Linked DNA regions of Homo sapiens: regions 2, 3, 4, 5 and 6 are each reported to be linked to region 1. Evidence: microRNA targets listed by miRTarBase, many of them from high-throughput screens and not tested one by one. Region 1 holds a microRNA gene; each other region holds the end of a gene's coding sequence.
What was found. Region 1 holds the annotated microRNA hsa-miR-8052 (CGGGACUGUAGAGGGCAUGAGC, at 1,129-1,150, shown strand). A microRNA usually pairs through its seed, bases 2 to 8, with sites in the 3' UTR of a target mRNA and lowers its output. Matches are read on the target gene's strand: a 7mer-m8 pairs with bases 2 to 8, a 7mer-A1 pairs with bases 2 to 7 and ends in A, and an 8mer does both.

Region 1 (3,327 bases):
ATTAGATCCCAAGCCCTCAGGACAGGGGCTCTTCAAAGTTGCCATTCAGTAAGTTCTGGAAGATAGCTGAGATGTCACATGGGCCAAATGGCTTTCTTGTGCATTCAAAATGAGTTGAGCACATTTAGAAGCCCATCCTCCACTCATCATTTTTCTAGAGACAAAGTTGTGGGTGCCTCTGAGCATGAATTTCATAAAGGCTCATCCTGCACAGAGCTGGTTCAAGAGATTGTAGGAAGAGGTGGTGGTAAAGAATGATGACTATCTTGAGATCTGAATATGCCTGGAAGAGGCAACTTCTTTTGTCCCTCCAACTTAAAAAAAATTACGAAGTTCACTGGGGCTTATACAGGGAGAAGGAGGATCTGCGGAGGTCCCCGCTCCAGTGTGATTTTAATATATTGGTGTAGGTGCAGAGCTTGTGGAATGCGTCAATCTCACAGCCATACACATCATGTGAGGATATGTAGTTCTTCCTCCTCTTCCTGTCCCTCCTCGTCTTCCTTTTCCTCCCCCTCCTCCTCCTCCTCTTCCTTTTCCTCTTTTTCTTTCTCTTTCTCTTCTTCCTCCTCCTTCTTCATCTGAAACTATTCTTATAGGCAATCTGATGGTAGACATCTCATGGGAAACAGTGGACAGTGTTATTAAAGAGACTTATGGGTCATAGCCATCTGTGTGATTAGGGATACCATGGCTGGCGAATAATGGCTAATGGAAGCTTCTCCAGCCCTCACCTTGTGGCTTGAAGCAGATTCTTCCTCAACAGTGGGTATAAATGCCTAGTTTATTTTCTGGAGTCCCCTTGGACTGGGTGGGTGGGGATCCAGCCAAGCTAAATCAGGACTGGAACTATGACTTCTTTAAGTTTTACTACACTGATATAGAGTCAGAAACTAATGATCCTGACCTTCTCTGGGATGCAGAAAACCCTTCCTGTGGCCAACAAATTAGGTACAATGCAGGCAGGAGCAGCTTCCCTGGCAATTGGGTTGTATCTCATTGGATATGGCAACTTTGGATAGAGTGGCCTATTATTATTCTGTGGGACAGGCACAACTGGGCATCTGTGGGTAATGAAGGAGGGTGCCAGCCGTAGGAGATCCCTTGTCTCCCTGGTCTGGAGGGCTGCGGGACTGTAGAGGGCATGAGCTCAGGAGCTCAGGCCAGCTCATGGTGCAAGGCCTCTGGAAGCCTTCTCAAAATGGTATCTGATTTAATTAAGACTCTGGCTGAGAATCCAGAGTGCCAGGGCTTGGTGGGCCACACATCCTCTCTTGCAGCCTGTGTGTGGCTTTTCTGGCCACCTCCAGGCTGTCAGGGAGTGCTGTTAGACTTTTAGCCGCAGCCTGCCATCTGGAGGAAAGGAATTGGCCACTTTTCTGCATTTCCTGCCATAAATGGGAAAAAGTATGACAGAATTTTGAGGTTTTTTTTCTACCCTCATGGGGTAGAATGTTTTAATTTTGAATACTTGCACCTCATTCTACAAAGAATCTGAGGTGGCTTATACAAATGCACACAATACAAATGAGTGGAAATAAATAATTGAATGAGTCAGAGTGATGGGAAATACAGTGAGTAAAAGGAAGCCAAGGGTAATTTATTACCCCAAAATGCACACTCCATGGTCCTTGGTGTGTCCTGTGGTTGGGCCATATATTTCCACCTAGGGAGGAAGTTAAAGTCCTAAAATTTTGGTAAAAGCAATTTTAACAAAAGAGTAAACTCATGCAGTCCTTAAATCCAGAAGTCTGTCTTAATTAGGATGAAAAAAATTGTAACTCTAAGTGCGATTTTTTTCATTTTTTGTATTAATTTTAGTATGCTATTTGAGACTATTTATAATATGTGTAAGTTACAAAATATAGTATGATGAACATTTCTGAACCCAGCAGTCAAGCAAAGGACAAGTCCATTCCCAGTAACTCGTATCCACCCTCACTTCTGCTCCTAACCTCCTTCTGTGTCCTGCTTTTCTTTTCCGCACAGAGAGAACCACTATCCTGAATTTTAGAATTATTCTTTTGATTTTTTGTTTTGTTTTATCCCAAATGCATGCATATGTAAATAATATTTTGCCCAGTTTTGCTTATTTTTAGGTTTATTAAAATAATATCTATTAGGTTGATGCAAACGTAATGAGGTTTTTGCAATTACGTTCGCACCAACTGAATAAATCAAAGTCTTCTGGGTTCTTTCCTTTTCCATTCAACATCATGTTTCTAAGATTCCTTAATGTTCTCACACATGTGTGCAATTCATTTTTTTCTACTGCTTTATTATGATACTTTTCATGGATACATTGCCCCTTATCCATTCTCTGCTGTTGACTCTTTAGGTTGCCTTTAGTATTGTACTATTATGAACAAAGGTCCTGAAGTCACTTTTGAATATGTCTCCTGGTGCACATATTCAAGAGTTTCTCTAGGGTGGATACCTAGGAGTAGAATTATGTGGTATGCTTCACAAGATAATGCTGAAATGTTTTCCAAAGCAATTATACAATCTCACCAGTAAAGTATAAACCTTTTCAAATCCTTATTTGACATTGTCAGATATTAATTTTTGTCAATCTAGTGGCATAAAAACTATCTCATTGTGGAAATGCAATTGCGTACCCTTGACTAGTAGGGCAGTGAAGAATCTTTTCATGCTTTTTTTTATGGTTTTCTTCTTGTGTGAAATATTTTAAAAATGTATTTTGCACATTTTATTGGGTTTATTGTCATTTTCTTATTGATTCATGACAATCTTTTAGATATCTTCTCTTAGGCCAACGTTTCATTCTGTATCTCAGGCAGGCCATTTTATTTATTGTAATGGCTTGAATTTCTTTCTGTGTATTGATTACTCACAAATCTAAGTATTCAGCCCAAGATGTTCTTCTGAGCATCACACACATGAATCCAACCAGACACTCAACACCTTTATGTGAATGTCTCACAAGATTGTGAGGCTCAATATGTCCAAAATTGAGTTCAGCATCTTTCCACCCAGGCTGAATTCCTCCATTTTGTCTTCTATCTTAGAGGAATCACCACCAAAAACTCAGGTATCCAAGCTACAAACTTAAGTGTGGTTTTTGACTCTAGCTTCTCCTTTATATGTGATGTCCAATCAATAACCAGGTTCTATGGATAGTAATTTCTAAATGTCCCTTGAGTCTATTCTTGTCTCTGAATCCCCAATGCTGTTCCTTTATTCAATAATCACAGGCACCCCAAATTGCTTCAGGACCCTCCTAGTTGGACTTCTGGTCTGCAGTCAGCATACTGGAGCCGTGGAGATAGCTTTTTAAAACATGCCATGTGGTCAAGTCACTCCCTT
Region 2 (3,000 bases), not on the chromosome of region 1:
AATGCGGCCTCTTCCTTCACTGGCTGTTGGTGACATCTGGAGCAGCTGCAGCTACCTTGGGACCATGAGGGGGGGTCCAGCCCCCAAACCTATCCTTGGCACAGCTAGGGGATGCGAGAACCTGGTTCCCTGAAGTCATCCTGCCTTGGGACATCTTGGTTTTTATCATAATTCATTTTTATTTATTCTTTTTTCTATTAGAGACAGGGCCTCATTCTGTCACCCAGCCTGGAGTGCAGTGGAGTGATAGATCATGGCTCACTGCAGCCTCAAACTCCAGGGCTCAAGGGATCCTCCCACACCAGCCTCCTAAGCAGCTGAGACTACAGGCACACACTACCATGCCCAGCTAATTTTTTTTCTTTTTCTGAGACGGGGTCTCGCTATGTTGCCCAGGCTGGTCTCAAACTCCTAAGCTCAAGTGATCCTCTTGCCTCAGCCTTCTTTTTTTCAGACAGAGTCTCGCTCTGTCACCCAGGCTGGAGTGCAGTGGCATGATCTCGGCTCACTGCAACCTCTGCCTCCTGGGTTCAAGCAATTCTCCTGCCTCAGCCTCCTGAGTAGCTGGGACTACAGGTGCCTGCCACCACGCCCAGCTAATTTTTTTAGTATTTTTAGTAGAGAAAGGGTTTCACCGTGTTAGCCGGGATGGTCTCCATCTCCTGACCTCGTGATCTATCCGCCTCTGCCTTCTAAAGTGCTGGGACTACAGGTGGAGCCACCATACCTGGTACATTCTTTTTTTTTTTTTTGAGATGGAATCTTGCTCTGGTACTCCGGTTGGAGTGCAGTGGTGCAATCTTGGCTCGCTGCAACCTCCGCCTCCCAGGATCAAGCAATTCTCTTGCCTCAGCCTCCCGAGTAGCTGGGATTACAAGTGCCCACCACCACACCCGGCTCATCTTTGTATTTTTAGTAGAGATGGGGTTTTGCCATGTTGACCAGGCTGGTCTTGAACTCCTGGCCTCAAGTGATCCCCCCTATCTTGGCCTTTCGAAGTGTTGGGATTACAGGCGTGAGCCACAGCACCTGGCCAAATTCATCTTTTAAAAGTTGCTTAATCCCGGCCAGGTGCAGTGGCTCACTCCTGTAATCCCAGCACTTTGGGAGGCTAAGGTGGGCAGATCATGATGTCAGGAGTTCAAGACCAGCCTGGCCAATATGGTGAAACCCCCATCACTACTAAAACAATGCAAAAATTAGAAGGCCGGGCGTGGTGGCAGGCAGCTGTAATCCCAGCTACTCGGGAGGCGGAGGCAGGAGAATCGCTTGATCCCAAAAGGCAGAGGTTGCAGTGAGCTGAGATTACACCACTGCCCTCCAGCCTGGGTGACAGAGTAAGACTCCATCTCAAAAAAAAAAAAAAAAAAAATTGCTTAATCCCAGGTTTGGGTTTTCTGTCCTTGTGGCTGAAGGGACCCTGAGTGAAGGCTGCAGACTCATCAGGGGCAGATGGAAAAATACCAGGATTGAGCCTCTCAGAAGTGATGCTTGAATCCAGTCTTCAAAGATGAGGACTCCGGCAGGTGACGTGGCAATAGCGTTTTGGAGGGACCAGTCCAGATACACAGGCATGGAGCCATGCATTTGTTCCAGAAAGTGTATTTGGATGGAACCGGAACATGGAACAGGACACACAGCAGGATGCGGAGCAGTGTCAGATGAGGCCAGAAAGGTGGGTGGGACTGGTCTTCAGGGGCTCCAGATGAGGCTGAGGGGCTGGGCCTAGGTCCTGGAGTGGGGTCAGCTCTGGGACCCTTCTGGGGCTGTGTGGGGAAGGGGCTGGGGGCCAAGAGGTCCAGGAGGAGGCTGGCGATGAGATGGCTGGAAGCCAGGGGTTCAGGGAGGCCCAGGCTCCTGGTATCAGGGTTCACCGGCTATACTGAGGATCCCCTGCCCCTGGCACCCAGCTGTGGAGGGGACACTGTCTTTGAGGCATCACTGGTTCCACAAAAGGTAGGGGAAGGTCTTGAGGGACCACCCCATGCCCTCATTAATCAACCAGAAGCTTGGCCCGGAGCAGCAGCGGGGATTCCAGTAGCTGTGGGCATACAGGATGCTAGGGCGGCCACAACCCAGGCAGCTGAGGCCGAGCCACCTAGGAACGCAGGCTCAGAGCAGACCCTCTTGGGACAGACGGAGAAGGGGAGGGGGCGGGCTTCTCTAAGTTAAGCCGATCACTGAGCACCTCACTGGACACGAGAGAAGGCAAGCCCCTCGGAGGACAGAAGGGAAGAGCCACAGACTTGGAGGCTGTGAAAGTGGAGACAGGTGGACCTGGGGTGGCAGCAATGCGTGAAATGCCAGGCCGTGCCCCCGCCCCAGGAGCCCAACATGACACCAGCCCCCAGGGAAGCTGACTGTGCCACTTCATCCAGCGCCCATCAGTCGCCTTGGAGCATCAGGAATCCTGAGGGCTGGGGTCCCGGAGGATCACAGATGCTGGGGCACCTCAACCTCAGGGAGCCGCTCGAGAAGTTTCTTTTCTGAAGTGTCCACCTCCTTCTGGTCACCGGCTGGAGCTGGGACAGGTACATCGTCTGGAAATGGAGGGAGGGAATGGTGGCACAGGACATCCGAACCCCTCCTCCCCCAGGACCCCAGAGGCCCAGCCCCTCCTCCCTCACACCCAGGGGTCCAGCCCCCAGCCCCTCCTCCCTCACACCCAGGGGTCCAGCCCCCAGCCCCTCCTCACTCACACCCAGGGGTCCCAGCCCCTCCTCCCTCACACCCAGGGGTCCCAGCCCCCAGCCCCTCCTCCCTCAGACCCAGGAGTCCGGACCCCCAGTCCCTCTTCCCTCAGATCTGGGAGTCTGGGCCCCCAGTCCCTCTTCCCTCAGATCTGGGAGTCCAGGCCCAGCCCCTCCAACCTCAGACCCAGGGGTCCAGCCCTGCAGCCCCTCCTCCCTGGACTAGGGCCAGCACCTGTGTCTGGGTGGAACTTGAGCTGCCCCTCAGGGTGGGCAGCCGGGGCCTTGTGGCCTTGCTGCTGCTGCTGCT
Region 3 (3,327 bases), not on the chromosome of region 1:
AGCCTCCCAGCCTACATCTTTCACCCATGCTGGATGCTTCCTGCCCTCAAACATTGCACTCCAAGTTCTTCAGCTTTGGGACTTGGACTGGCTTCCTTGCTCCTCAGCTTGCAGATGGTCTACCGTGGGACCTTGTAATTGTGTGTGTCAATACTCCTTAATAAGCTCATATATATATATATCTCCTATTATATATATATATCTCCTATTATATATATATCTCCTATTATATATATCCTATATATATAATATCCTATTATATATATCCTATATATATATAATATCCTATTATATATATCCTATATATATATAATATCCTATTATATATATAAAGTATATATATTTATATATACTTTATATATATTTGTATATATATCCTATATAGCTCCTATATATATCCTATTATATATATATCCTATTTTATATATATATCCTATTTTATATATATATCCTATATGTAATATCCTATTTTATATATATATGTACCTCCTATATATATAGGAGTTTATTAAGGAGTGTTGACCCACACAATTACAAGGTCCCACAATAGACCTTGCAATATATATATATAGATATAGATATAGATATAGATATAGTATTGTGTGATATATATATATATATATATATCCTATTAGTTCTGTCCCTCTAGAGAACCCTAATACAGATGGAATGAGATTTTTAAAAGTAGATGCTTTTCTAGGTCGAGAGCAACCAAATTTTGGCAATTTCACATGACGTGAGCTCTACTTAGGAATCCTACAATTCTGGATTCTCTGTCTTCTTACCTGAGTTTTACCTATTCCTGCTCTTCCTGAGCTTCTCAGAATATGCCTTTAAATTCCACCATCTATCCTTAAGCCAGTTGAGTTCCCACTAAGCTCCTCTAGCCAACCCAACATCCATTCCATAAACATTCTTTGAGCACCAGTTCTGAACCAGGGACTGCTGCAGACACAAGGGCAGATGTAAGTCTGTCTTAGCCTTTGAGGAGTTCATAGTCTAGTGGGAAATTGAAACTTTAAAAATGTACATAATTAGGTTGGTGATAGAAATATGTCCAAAGTGTGGAAGAGAATCAAGAAGCATCATGCTTACGGGAAAGAGTGAGGATGATTTCAAAGAAGAGTCGATATGTGGATTGTGTCCTGAGAGAACTGTAAGATTTCCTGAACAAACCCAAGTAGGGAAGGCATTACAGCAGGCATGATGTGAAATCTGGGCTCTGGAGCCATGAAAGAACACTGAAAGTTCTGGGGAAGGGCCAGTAGCTCCATAGGGCCCAATGATAGGATGCAAGGAGGGGCTGGGTGTGGTGGCTCACACCTGTAATCCCAGCACTTCGGGAGTCCAAGACAGGAGGATCATTTGAGGCCAGGAGCTCAATACTGCAGTGAGCTATGATCGCACCACTGCATTCCAGCCTGGGTGACAGAGCAAGAGCTAGTCTCTAAAAATTAAAAATAAAGAAGATGCAAGGATATAAAAGGAGATTGCTGTCAGATCTTAAAGGAGCATGACATTCTCTCCCTGAATCATGTGTTTAAGCCACAAAATTTTTTTCTAACCAGAGAAGTGACATGATGTTTGTTTTTGAAATATAATTTTGCAAAATTGTCATTTTTGAAATATAATTTTGCAAAAATTATATTTCAGGAGTGCTTTTCTTCCTGTGACCTGTGAGACCAGAAAGAAGAATCAAGCCAAATGAGTAGGATGTGTAGGCTGTAAAAACTATCTTTATTTTTTTTCTACTTATAAAAGAAATACAGATTCATTCTAAACAATTCAAACATTATAGAAATACACAACATAGAAATCAAATGCTCCCTGTAATCCAACCTCCCAGACCCAAACCACTGTTACTACATCTGGTATAGATTTCTTTACACTTTTATTTCAATGCCATTTCAATGGCAAAAACCACAATTAGTTTTGCACCAACCTAATAGTTTATAACATATTAATATGTTTTTTCCATACCAGGAAATATACAGCTACCTTATTCTTTTTAGTGGCATGTAATATTATATTACATTAATGTACTATAATTTATTGAATTAGACCTTATTTTGTGGCCATGAGGATGTTTTCCATTTTTTTCTTTTTTTTTTTTCTTTTTTTTGAGATGGAGTCTCGCTCTGTCACCAGGCTGGAGTGCAGTGGCTCGATCTCAGCTCACTGCAACTGCCACCTCCCGGGTTCAAGCGATTCTCCTGCCTCAGCCTCCCAAGTAGCTGGGACTACAGGCGTGCACCATCACGCCCAGCTAATTTTTGTATTTTTAGTAGAGACAGGGTTTCACCATGTTGGCCAGGATGGTCTCCATCTCTTGACCTCGTGGGTCACCCACCTTGGCCTCCCATAGTGCTGGGATTACAAGAGTGAGCCACTGCACCTGGCCACATTTTTCATGATTATAAACAATCCTGGGATGAACACCTTTTTCCATAAGCCCTTATAAACTTGTGAAGGTGTTTCTATAGGATACATTCTTAGAAATCCTTCTAGAAACTGATATGAAGGGAATAACCATTTTTTATTTTAATAAATATTGTCAAATTGCCATCATAAAGGTTGTATCAATGTACATCCCAACAGTGTATGTGGTCCCCAACTTCCCAAGGACTGTGGGATTTTATAGACAATCTGTTCTCATCAGAGAGATTGTAGAACCTCGAGACTCTTCATTTAACTCTGTGAATGTCTGCAGTTCATACATTTCTCTGGTGGCTAATACATTAACATTAATAGCAGCTCGAAGGTTTGCCCAGAAAAGCCCACATTTACGCCTATCCTTGGGCCATTCCAAGTATGCTTTTTTTTCCAGGAGAGCTTTCAGTTTATGATACCTGGTGGGAATGCAATAGAATGGAATGGGTTCCAGTAAGATAAGAATTATATGATCAGAATTTTCATGGAAGAGATTGTGGTGGGCAAAGTAGAATTCATAATGGCACCACTCATTCTGGACAAAGTTGGGAGACAAAACAAAGATGGACTTATAGCTTTTCTCAATGAAGCTTACAATATTTTCACTAATGCTTTTGCCAGGGTCAAAGTAGCTTTCATAAAGGCAAATCAAGATAGAACCATCTTCCTTCTCTAGATTGGGGATCAATTCATTCTTCACCCACAGAGAATCATGTTCACTGTATGAAATAAATGCGTGGAATCGGACATTTCTCTTGAGTTGTTCTTGGGTTGTTTTCCTAACCCTGTGCCATGTTTGTGTGCATTGACCTAGCATCCTGAGATACCAGGGCAGATCAAAGTGGAGACAGCAGAAGGCCACAGCCAACCCCAGAACTAGCATAATAACCACAATGG
Region 4 (3,000 bases), not on the chromosome of region 1:
GCACCCGGCCTAACCTTGACAGTTTTAAAGTTGTGTGCTGTGGATTCGTTCCCCATTTAATATGTGGCGTAAAGTAGGTCTTTCTCTCTCTGCAGAAGTCATAAGGACGAGGCTCCGGGAAGAGGGCACCAAGTACAAGTCTTTTGTCCAGACGGCGCGCCTGGTGTTCCGGGAAGAAGGCTACCTTGCCTTTTATAGAGGACTGTTTGCCCAGCTTATCCGGCAGATCCCAAATACTGCCATTGTGTTGTCTACTTATGAGTTAATTGTGTACCTGTTAGAAGACCGTACTCAGTAACAGGCCGGAAAATTGTGCTCTAGAAGAATAAAACTGAAAAACTCTAGAGAATTTTTTTTCCCCATTGATGTTTAGAAAGTTTGAGACTGAAACAGGAAAGGCCATAAAATATCTGGTTCATATCACCTGTTGGACATTTCCTTTTGGATTCATGCTTTCTGGAAGGTTTAAATTCATTAACGTTAATAGTTAATTATAACTTTTTTTTTAACTTAAGAGGATTCAGGGTTAAGCACCAACTAAATTAAATCATGCTATTTAATTTAAGTATACATTTGGCTTGTGTCCTCTTTTATGCTCACTATACTATGAAGGACTTAAGTAATTCAGATAAACCTGCCCTAGAACTGCAGAGAAAAATGATAAAGTGAGAATACAACTTGTTTTATAATCTGACTTTAAGATCTTGCACTGCTAGACAGGGAAGAAGTGTCGCATTTTGGCTGGGCACTGTGGCTCACGCCCGTAATCCCAGCACTTTGGGAGGCCGAGGCAGATGGATCACGTGAAGTCAGGAGTTCCAGACCAGCCTGGCCAACATGGCGAAACCCTGTCTCTACTAAAAATACAAAAATTAGCCGGACGTGTGCCTGTAATCCCAGCTACTTGGGAGGCTGAGGCAGGAGAATCACTTGAAACCCAGGGGGCAGAGGTTGCAGCGAGCTGAGATCACGTCACTTCACTCCAGCCTGGTCGACAGAGTGAGACTCCATCTCAAAAAAAAAAAAATTGTGTCACATTTTGGTGGTGGTGTGTGGACCAGGACAAACTTCCCAGCAATTTTTCTTCTTTGTACATTTCCAATTACTTGCAGATTGATCATCTAAGCGTTCAGACTGCTGAGATGAATATATATAACTTTCTGAGACTCAATATTTTAAGCTATAAAAAACTTCCTGAAGTTATCCTTTTCTCCCTACTTTGAACCAAAGGCAAGAATTTTTAAAGAACTGTTTTATCAATGGCCTGGCTCCTGGATATAGTTCCGGAAGTTAAGACCAGTTGCCTTGTTAAGTGTGTTGACAGCACAGCTACCCTGTTTGGCTGTGAATCCAGAATGTGATGAAGAACAGTCATTCCCACTGAGGTCTTTAGCCCTGTTCTTGGACCTCTGCTCTTGCAGAAAAGGAGCACAACGTAGGACTATGGCTCACCCGTCAGAGAGCTCACATTCTGATAGAAAGCACTGGGATTGTTTAAATATCCTAGTTCAACATTAAAAAAAAAAAAAATTTAATCCCAGCACTTTGGGAGGCCAAGGCGGGCAGATCACGAGGTCAGGAGATCGAGACCATCCTGGCTAACACGGTGAAACCCCGTCTCTACTAAAAAAATACAAAAAAATTGGCCATGCGTGGTGGCGGGCACCCATAGTCCCAGCTACTCGGGAGGCTGAGGCAGGAGAATGGCGTGAACCTGGGAGGCGGAGCTTGCAGTGAGCTGAGATGGCGCCACTGCACTCCAGCCTGGGCCACAGAGTGCGACTCCATCTCAAAAAAAAAAAAAAAACCAGGATGTTACCCCCTTGGTTTTAAAGCAAATTTAATAAGGGAACAAAAAGATGATACTAAGAAGAAGGCAAGTAAAACCCCTAGTCTTCCATTAGCTCTTTCACTGGAATTTGAGTATATTGTACATGAAGGTTGGTTTTCAATTTGAACGTCTAGAAAGATACTCATTTCTAATACCTATGCACTGTAGTTTCAGGTTTACTTGCAGACACCCTGGTAGGGTTAAGAGGAGGATATTTCCAAGTTATTTTAAATTGAGTTTACTTTTAACTGGGGTTCTTGACTCTAGTGTAATTGCTCCAACAACTACGTAGAAGTCAAAATGAGTGACTTTAGTGAAGCTTCTGTACTTTACAATACATGACAGTAATGCTATTCCAGAAGTTTTGTTTTGTTTTGTTTTGAGATGGAGTCTCGCTCTGTCTCTCCCAGGCTGGAGTGCAGTGGCACAATCTCGGCTCACTACAGCCTCCACCTCCCGGTTTCAAGCAATTCTCCTGTCTTAGCCTCCTGAGTAGCTGGGACTACAGGCATGCGCCACCACACCTGGCTAATTTTGTATTTTTAGTAGAGATGGGGTTTCACCATGTTGGCCAGGCTGGTCTCAAACTCTTGACCTCAGGTGATCTACCCGCCTCGGCCTCCCAAAGTACTGGGATTACAGGAGGGAGCCACCATACCTGGCCCGCGCCGCCCCTTCCTTTGTTGTTATTGTTGTTTTGAGACAAGGTATCACTCGATCACTGAAGCTGGATACAGTGGCAAGATCATAGCTCACTGTAACCTCAAACTCCTGGGCACAAGGGATCCTCGCATCTCAGCCTCCCAAGTAGCTTGGACCACAGGAAAGTACCACCATGCCCAGCTAATGTTTTTTCATTTTTTGTGCAGACGAGGTTTTGCTATGTTGTCCAGGCTGGTCTCAGACTACTGGCCAGAAGCGATCTTACCTCCTCAGCCTCCCAAAGCACTGGAATTACAGAGTAACATCTAATTTTAATATTCACATTCCTATTTTAATATTCATATTCGATGATGGCACTTAGCAACATCCTCCTATATCCATATTAAAACCTGTTTTCCAAGATTGTGTCTAATATGAAGGTGTAAAATTGCTTTGTTTTCACTCCTTCTTGAATGAATAAATTTGATAGTAACCAATTATAATTTTAGTTTTCTGCTTCTCCTGCC
Region 5 (3,327 bases), not on the chromosome of region 1:
TCGATATCATGAACGAATTCACACTGGAGAGAAACCCTATGAATGCAAGCAGTGTGGGAAAACGTTATCTCATAGCTCAAGCTTTCGAAGACACATGATAATGCACACTGGAGGTGGACCTCATAAATGCAAGATATGTGGGAAAGCTTTTGTTTATCCTAGTGTATGTCAAAGACACGAAAAGTCTCACAGTGGAGAGAAACCCTATGAATGCAAGCAGTGTGGGAAAGCGTTATCTCATAGCTCAAGCTTTCGAAGACATATGGTAATGCATACGGGAGATGGGCCGAATAAATGCAAGGTATGTGGGAAAGCCTTTGTTTATCCCAGTGTATGTCAAAGACATGAAAAGACTCACTGGAGAGAAACAATATGAATGTAAACTATTATAAAGCCTTCTATATTTCCAGTTCCCTTTGATATCATGAATAAACTTACACTGGACAGAAACCCTATAAATGTAAATGTGGGAAAGCCTTTCATAATTTTTATTCCTTTCAAAATCATGAAATATCTCACACTGGAGAGATGCTGTATGATATAAGGAATGTGGGAAAGTGATCGATTTTTTTTTAACACCATTGTCAACATAAAACAACTCACAGAGCAGAAAAACTCTGTGAGTGTAAAATATGTAGGGAAGCCTTCAGTCATTTTGGTAACTTAAAAGTACATGAGGCTGGGCACAGTGGCTCACGCCTGTAATCCCAGCACTTAGGGTGGGCAAATTGCTTGACCTCAGGAATTTGAGGCCTGCCTGGGCAAAATGGTGAAACCATGTCTCTACAAAAAATAGAAAAAGTAGCAGGTGTGGTGGTATGCCCCTGTAGTCCCAGCTACTTGGGAGGCTGAGGTGGGAAGATCTCTTGAGCCCAAGGGGTGGGGGTTGCAGTGAGCCAAGATGCACTGCACCCCAGCCTGGGCGACAGAGCCAGACCCTGTCTCAAAAAAAAAAAAAAAGTACATGAAAGGATTCACTCTGGAGAGAAGTCATATGAATGTAAGAAATGTAGAAAAGCATTGAGTTCTCTCAGGTCCTTGCATAGACATAAAAGGACTCACTGGAGAGATACTCTATAAATGTGTGAAATGTAGGGAAGTATTCTTTAATGTTATTTCATTTCAGATAGAAATAATTCTCATTGGAGATAAACCCTATGAATGTAAACACATAGTAAAGCCTTAATTTTAAGCCTCAGTTTCTTTCAAATACAGTTATCCCCTAATATTTGCAGGAGCGTGGTTCTACCACCCCCTGGGCATACATAAATCGACACATGCCAAGTCCTTTTTTAAAAATGACATATTTGGTACAAAATTACCCGGATGTGATGGCACATGCCTGTAATCCCAGCTACTCAGGAGGCTGAGGCAGGATAATCACTTGAATCCGGGAGGCGGAGGTTGCGGTGAGCCAAGATCGCGCCACTGCACTCCAGCCTGGGCAGCAAGAGCAAAACAACCTCTGTCACACACACAAAAAAAAAAAAAAAGGAAAGAAAGAAAAGACATATTTGGGTTAGACACAGTTGCTCACCTCTGTAATCCTAGCACCTTAGGAGCCCAAGACAGGTGGATCACTTGAGCCCAGGAGTTAGAGGCCAGCCTGGGTAATGTGGCAAAACCCTGTCTCTACAGAAGATACACAAATTAGCCAGGTGTGGTGACATGTACCTGTAGTCCCAGCTACTAGGGAAGCTGAGGTGGGAGGATCGCTTGAGCCTGGGAGGTTGAGGTTGCGGTGAGTCAAAATCACATCACTGCATTCTAGCATGGGCAACAGAATGAGACCCTGTCTCAAAAAAATAATAACAATAAAAAATATTTGCATGTAACCTACCCACATCCTCCTGTATACTCTAAATCATCTGTAGATTAGTTAAAATACATCATGCATCATAGAAGCTATGTAAATAGTTGTTATTATATTGTTTAGTGAATCATGATATGAGAAAGACCCTACACATATTCAGTACAGACCCACCCACATAATACATGTCACCTAGAGCATTATAAATCTTTTCTTTCAACACTCATAGATTGCTTTTGTTTAATGACCTGAAAATGTGTTAACATTCACCCAACAAAAGTGTAATGATGATTATTGCAATATCGTGCCTAATGTTGTGATGTGTTGAGTCAGCTAGATGTGTGACACCACAGATAAGCAGTGAGACCTCAGGCTAACTCGAATCTTGACAGGATGTCAACATGATCAACTATATTGGAAGAAACAGATTCTGACTGCAGATACTGAATTTTTGGAGCAGTCTAAATAATACTAATGTCAGAATCTGTTCAATTTGAGGACTGAAGATCTTTAAGCATTGAAGGCTGTCTTCATATTTGCAGATATTTAATTAGAAACATTGTAGGAAGCTAGTTTTTTTTTTTTTAAACTTTGCAACGTTTGTGAGCATGTAATCTCTGGGGTGACATGGAGGCTTTGTTCCATGGAAGAATCTTAATTGAGGATGATAATCTTTAACACTTGCGCCTTGTAGAAGCTGTAGGTGCCCTAAAACTGCTTCCAATTTTTCTTTTTTTTTCTTTTTCTTTTCTTTTTTTTTTTTTTTAAGACAAGATCTCACTCTGTCACCCTACAGTGCATGGCTCACTGCAGCCTCAACTTCCTGGGCTCAAGTGATCTTCCCACCTCAGCCTCCCAAGTAGCTGGGATTATAGGCACACATCACGATGCCTGGCTACTTTTTGTGTTTTTTGTGGAGACAAGGTTTCACCATGTTTCCCAGGCTGGTCTTGAACTCCTGGAATCAAGAGATCTGCCTGCCTTGGCCTCCCAAATTACTAGGATTACAGGGTGAGCCACCACACCCAGCCTTCAGATTTTTCAAGTATCAAAATCTATAGCACTGCTTCTTTTTTTTTTTTTCAGACAGAGTCTCACTCTGTCGCTGAGGCTGAAGTGCAGTGGTGCAATCTCAGCTCACTGCAGCCTCCACCTCCCAGGTTCAAGTGATCCTCCTGCATCAGCCACCTGAGGAGCTGGGATTACAATCTCAGCTCACTGCAACCTCCACCTCCCAAGTTCAAGTGATCCTCCTGCCTCAGCCACCCAAGTAGCTGGGAATACAGGCATGCACCACCATGCCCAGCTAATTTTTGTATTTTTAGTAGAGACAGGGTTTCGCCATGTTTGCCAAGCTGGTTTTGAACTCCCTGTGACTTCAAGTGATCTGCCTGCCTTGGCCTCTCAGAATGCTGGGATTACAGGCATGAGCCACCACTTATGGCACTGCCTCTTTATTTATTTATTGAGACTGAGTCTCACTCTGTCACCCAGGCTGGAGTGCAGTGGCACGATCT
Region 6 (3,327 bases), not on the chromosome of region 1:
GTGACATAACTGTTCTTTGCTGAAGCAGAGTCTCACTCTGTCACCCAGGCTGGAGTGCAGTGGTGAGACCATAGCTCACTGCAGTCTTGAAATCTCAGGCTTAAGTGGGAGTTCAGCCTTGAGTAGCTGGGACTACAGGCACATGCCACCATGCCTGGCTTTTTTTTTTTTCTTTTTCTTTTTCTTTTTTTGAGACGGAGTCTCACTCTGTCGCCAGGCTGGAGTGCAGTGGCGCAATCTTGGTTCACTGCAACCTCCGCCTGCCGGGTTCAAGCGATTCTCCTGCCTCAGCTTCCTGAGTAGCTGGGACTACAGGCACGTGCCACCACAGTCAGCTAATTTTTGTATTTTTAGTAGAGACGGGGTTTCACCATGTTGGCCAGGATGGTCTTGATCTCCTGACCTCATGATCTGCCTGCCTCGGCCTCCCAAAGTGCTAGGATTATAGGCGTGAGCCACCGTGCCCGGCCAATAAATTTCTTTCTATAGCCATATATATATATATGTATATCATTGGTTCTGTTTCTCTGGAGAACGCTAATACAAGTGAAGTGTGATTCAAATTTTCTTTTCTTTTTCTTTTTTTTTTTTTTGGAGACGGAGTCTCACTCTGTCACCCAGGCTGGAGTGCATAACCCCCCAGGCCCAAGCAAGCCTCCCACCTCTGCCTCCTGAGTAGCTGGGACTACAGGCATGCATTACAGTGCCCATGCCTAGCTATTTTCTTTTTTTAGACGGAGTTTCCCTCTTGTCGCCCAGGCTGCAGTGCAATGGCTGTTCACAGGCATGATCCCTCTACTGACCAGCACGGAAGTGCTTCATTTCTGATCTGGGCCAGTTCACCCCTCCTTAGGCAAACTGGTGATTCCTCACTCCTGGGAGGTCACCATGTTGATGCCAAATTTAGTGTGGACACCCAATTAGCATTGTGCACTAAAGCCCAGAACTCCTGGGCTCAAATGATCTTCCCACCTCACCCTCCCCAGTAGCTAGGACTACAGGCACGTGCACACCTGATATCTCTGAGCCTTTACACATGCTTCTTTCTCTGCCTCCTCCCACCCCAACCCAACTATCTTCTACTCTTTCTTCAGGATTCAGCATAGGTATCATCTCTTTTAGAGAACTTTATCTGTCAGGACTGATTCAAGTAATAGAAACTTCCTTGCACTAACAAGCCAAAAAGGGAAAAAGGGATTTAATATAAGAGTATAGAAGCATACTCTTCCTTGAGGAAGGAATCATCCAAAACCAAGCACTCCATTTCATTAGGACTTTATCTCTTGTGTCTGTTCTTTCCCACCCTTAGAATCCCAGTTGGCCTCTTCAAGTAGCTTTGTTACTGCCTATCTATACTTCTCGTTCTTCTCCTCTAGACCATAAGTTCCTTGAAGGCAAGACTGTACCTTTATTAATTTCCTCATCCCCAGAACTTAGCAGAGTACACCCAACAGAGTTCACAGGTGGTCAAAGAGGCAGACAAGTAAACTGGCCCTTAATGCACAACCCAGCAAGTGTCCTTGAAAATGCACATTTTCAAGGTGCTTCCAGAGCCAGAGGAGATAGAGAGGACTCACCTCCCTATCTGGGCAGTCGAGAAGCTTCAGGAAGGACACAGGCTTACGCATTGCTTATCCTTTGATTGGGGGATCCAAAGGAAAGTCCCATACAATGCATAGATTTTTTTTTTTTTTGAGATAGGGTCTCACTCTGTCACCCAGGCTAAGTAAAGTGGTGCAATGAGGGGTCACTGTAGCCATGACCTCCCTGGCTCAAGTGATCCTCTCACATCAGTGTCCGGAGTAGCTGGGACTACAGGCATTCATTACCATGTCCAGCTAATTTTTTTTTCTTTGTAGAGATGGGGTCTCACTATGTTGCCCAGGCTCTTCTCGAACTCCTGGTCTCAATCCTCCTGCCTCAGCTTCCCAAAGGGCTGGGATTATGGGCATGAGCCATCACACCCAGCCACGGAGAATCAGAGAGTCTCTTAAGAGACCTCCCAGCTCCTTGGGTCTCCATTGAAGCAAAGAGAGAACATCCAGTGTATTTCTGCGTGGTGCTTGAAGACAGAGGAAAGGAACAACGAGTCACAGAGCAGGGGACTTGGTGCTCTGTTTCTCTAACATTTCAGCCATCTGAGATTTCATTCAGTTCCTCTTTTTCTTTCTGATACGGAGTCTCGCTCTGTCACCCAGGCTGGAATGCAATGGCGCAATCTCACTGCGCCCGGCCATTGACTACTTTATCTTTCACTCTTCATTTTTGAAGAGTCTGGGTCAGATGTTTAGCAGAATGCCCCTAATGTGGATTTGTCTGATTATTTCCTCATGGTTAGATTCAGATTAAACTTTTTTTTTTTTTTTACAAGATGCCACTTGCATGATGCTGTGGGTGCCTTTTCATTGCAATGCCTCCATTTCAGATGTGAGAAAGTTCTGGGCCTGTAGGGCATTTCAAGCCTAGGTGTGTATGGGGGAGGAGGGGATAGATGTTCATCTATGCACCAGATCCTCAGATCCCCGAGGTGGGTTGCGGGGAAGGCCCAGGGAGCTGATGGATAAAGCCACAGCTTCAGTCCTGGCAGAGTTCACTGCCAGGAATGGCTGCTGACTGCGGGGCACTGATGGTGGGCAGCCAGGGCCGAGGTGCAAACTTCTTCCCACAAGGAGTTCCAGGTGTTCAGTGGCAGCCAGTTCCTCAGTTAATGGGTCACCTGCTGCTGCGGCCACTCTCTGTTGATGCAGCTGCAAGGGAAATGAAGAGGGCTGAGGGAGGTGGCCATGCCAATGCTGTCCTGTGGAGGAGAGGGACAGCAAAGGGACAGGCGTACAAAGACAGAGGGAGCCATGGCCGGGCACAGTGGCTCATGCCTGTAATCCCAGCACTTTGGGAGGCCGAGGCAGGTGGATCACTTGAGCTCAGGAGTTCGAGACCAGCCTGAGCAACATGGTGAAACTCTGTCTCTACCAAAAATACAAAACAAATTAGCTAGATGTGGTGTCACGAGCCTGTAGTCCCAGCTACTTGGGAGGCTGAGGTGAGAGGATTGCCTGAGCCCAGGAAGAAGAGGTTGCAGTGAGCTGAGATCGCACCACTGCACTCCAGCCTGGGTGACAGTGCAAGACCCCACCTCAAAAAAAGAAAATTAAAAAAAAAAACACAAAGACAGAGGGAGCCAGAATAAAAAACAGAATGAAAGAGTGAGAGCCAGGGCGTCAGAGGGAATGCACACACCAGCAAAGGAGAGAAAAGTGGAGGGACAGAGACAGAGAGAAACCAAGAGATTCATAAATGGCAGCCCACAGAGAAAAGAAAGCACCAGCT

Region 2: the mRNA of NUCB1 is a reported target of hsa-miR-8052. Seed matches in the 3' UTR shown: 8mer at 1,681-1,688.
Region 3: the mRNA of TLR10 is a reported target of hsa-miR-8052. Seed matches in the 3' UTR shown: 7mer-A1 at 2,236-2,242.
Region 4: miRTarBase lists SLC25A33 as a target of hsa-miR-8052. Seed matches in the 3' UTR shown: 7mer-A1 at 1,671-1,677.
Region 5: miRTarBase lists ZNF563 as a target of hsa-miR-8052. Seed matches in the 3' UTR shown: 7mer-A1 at 829-835.
Region 6: the mRNA of ADAP2 is a reported target of hsa-miR-8052. Seed matches in the 3' UTR shown: 7mer-A1 at 1,808-1,814.

What each region holds. Positions count from the first base shown.
Region 1 is chr11:130,665,617-130,668,943 of GRCh38, forward strand. It overlaps MIR8052 (microRNA 8052), which reads left to right and starts at 1,119; the gene lies at 1,119-1,187.
Region 2 is chr19:48,921,858-48,924,857 of GRCh38, reverse strand. It overlaps NUCB1 (nucleobindin 1), which reads right to left. Exons shown (of 13, transcript NM_006184.6): 12 at 2,926-3,000; 13 at 1,486-2,540. The coding sequence ends at 2,434. Among named protein-coding and RNA genes, the nearest start is that of NUCB1-AS1, 4.5 kb to the right of the region's middle. RefSeq lists an enhancer at 1,623-2,122.
Region 3 is chr4:38,770,520-38,773,846 of GRCh38, forward strand. It overlaps TLR10 (toll like receptor 10), which reads right to left. Exons shown (of 4, transcript NM_030956.4): 4 at 1,719-3,327. The coding sequence ends at 2,636. Among named protein-coding and RNA genes, the nearest start is that of TLR10, 11 kb to the right of the region's middle.
Region 4 is chr1:9,582,204-9,585,203 of GRCh38, forward strand. SLC25A33 (solute carrier family 25 member 33) reads left to right here. Exons shown (of 7, transcript NM_032315.3): 7 at 96-2,970. The coding sequence ends at 298. Among named protein-coding and RNA genes, the nearest start is that of TMEM201, 5.2 kb to the right of the region's middle.
Region 5 is chr19:12,315,643-12,318,969 of GRCh38, reverse strand. ZNF563 (zinc finger protein 563) reads left to right here. Exons shown (of 4, transcript NM_145276.3): 4 at 1-1,493. The coding sequence ends at 376. Among named protein-coding and RNA genes, the nearest start is that of ZNF563, 16 kb to the left of the region's middle.
Region 6 is chr17:30,957,255-30,960,581 of GRCh38, reverse strand. ADAP2 (ArfGAP with dual PH domains 2) reads right to left here. Exons shown (of 11, transcript NM_018404.3): 11 at 1,260-2,747. The coding sequence ends at 2,713. It also overlaps a transcript of RNF135 not described here and the pseudogene RN7SL138P. Among named protein-coding and RNA genes, the nearest start is that of RNF135, 12 kb to the left of the region's middle. RefSeq lists a silencer at 60-109 and enhancers at 2,236-2,735, 3,319-3,327.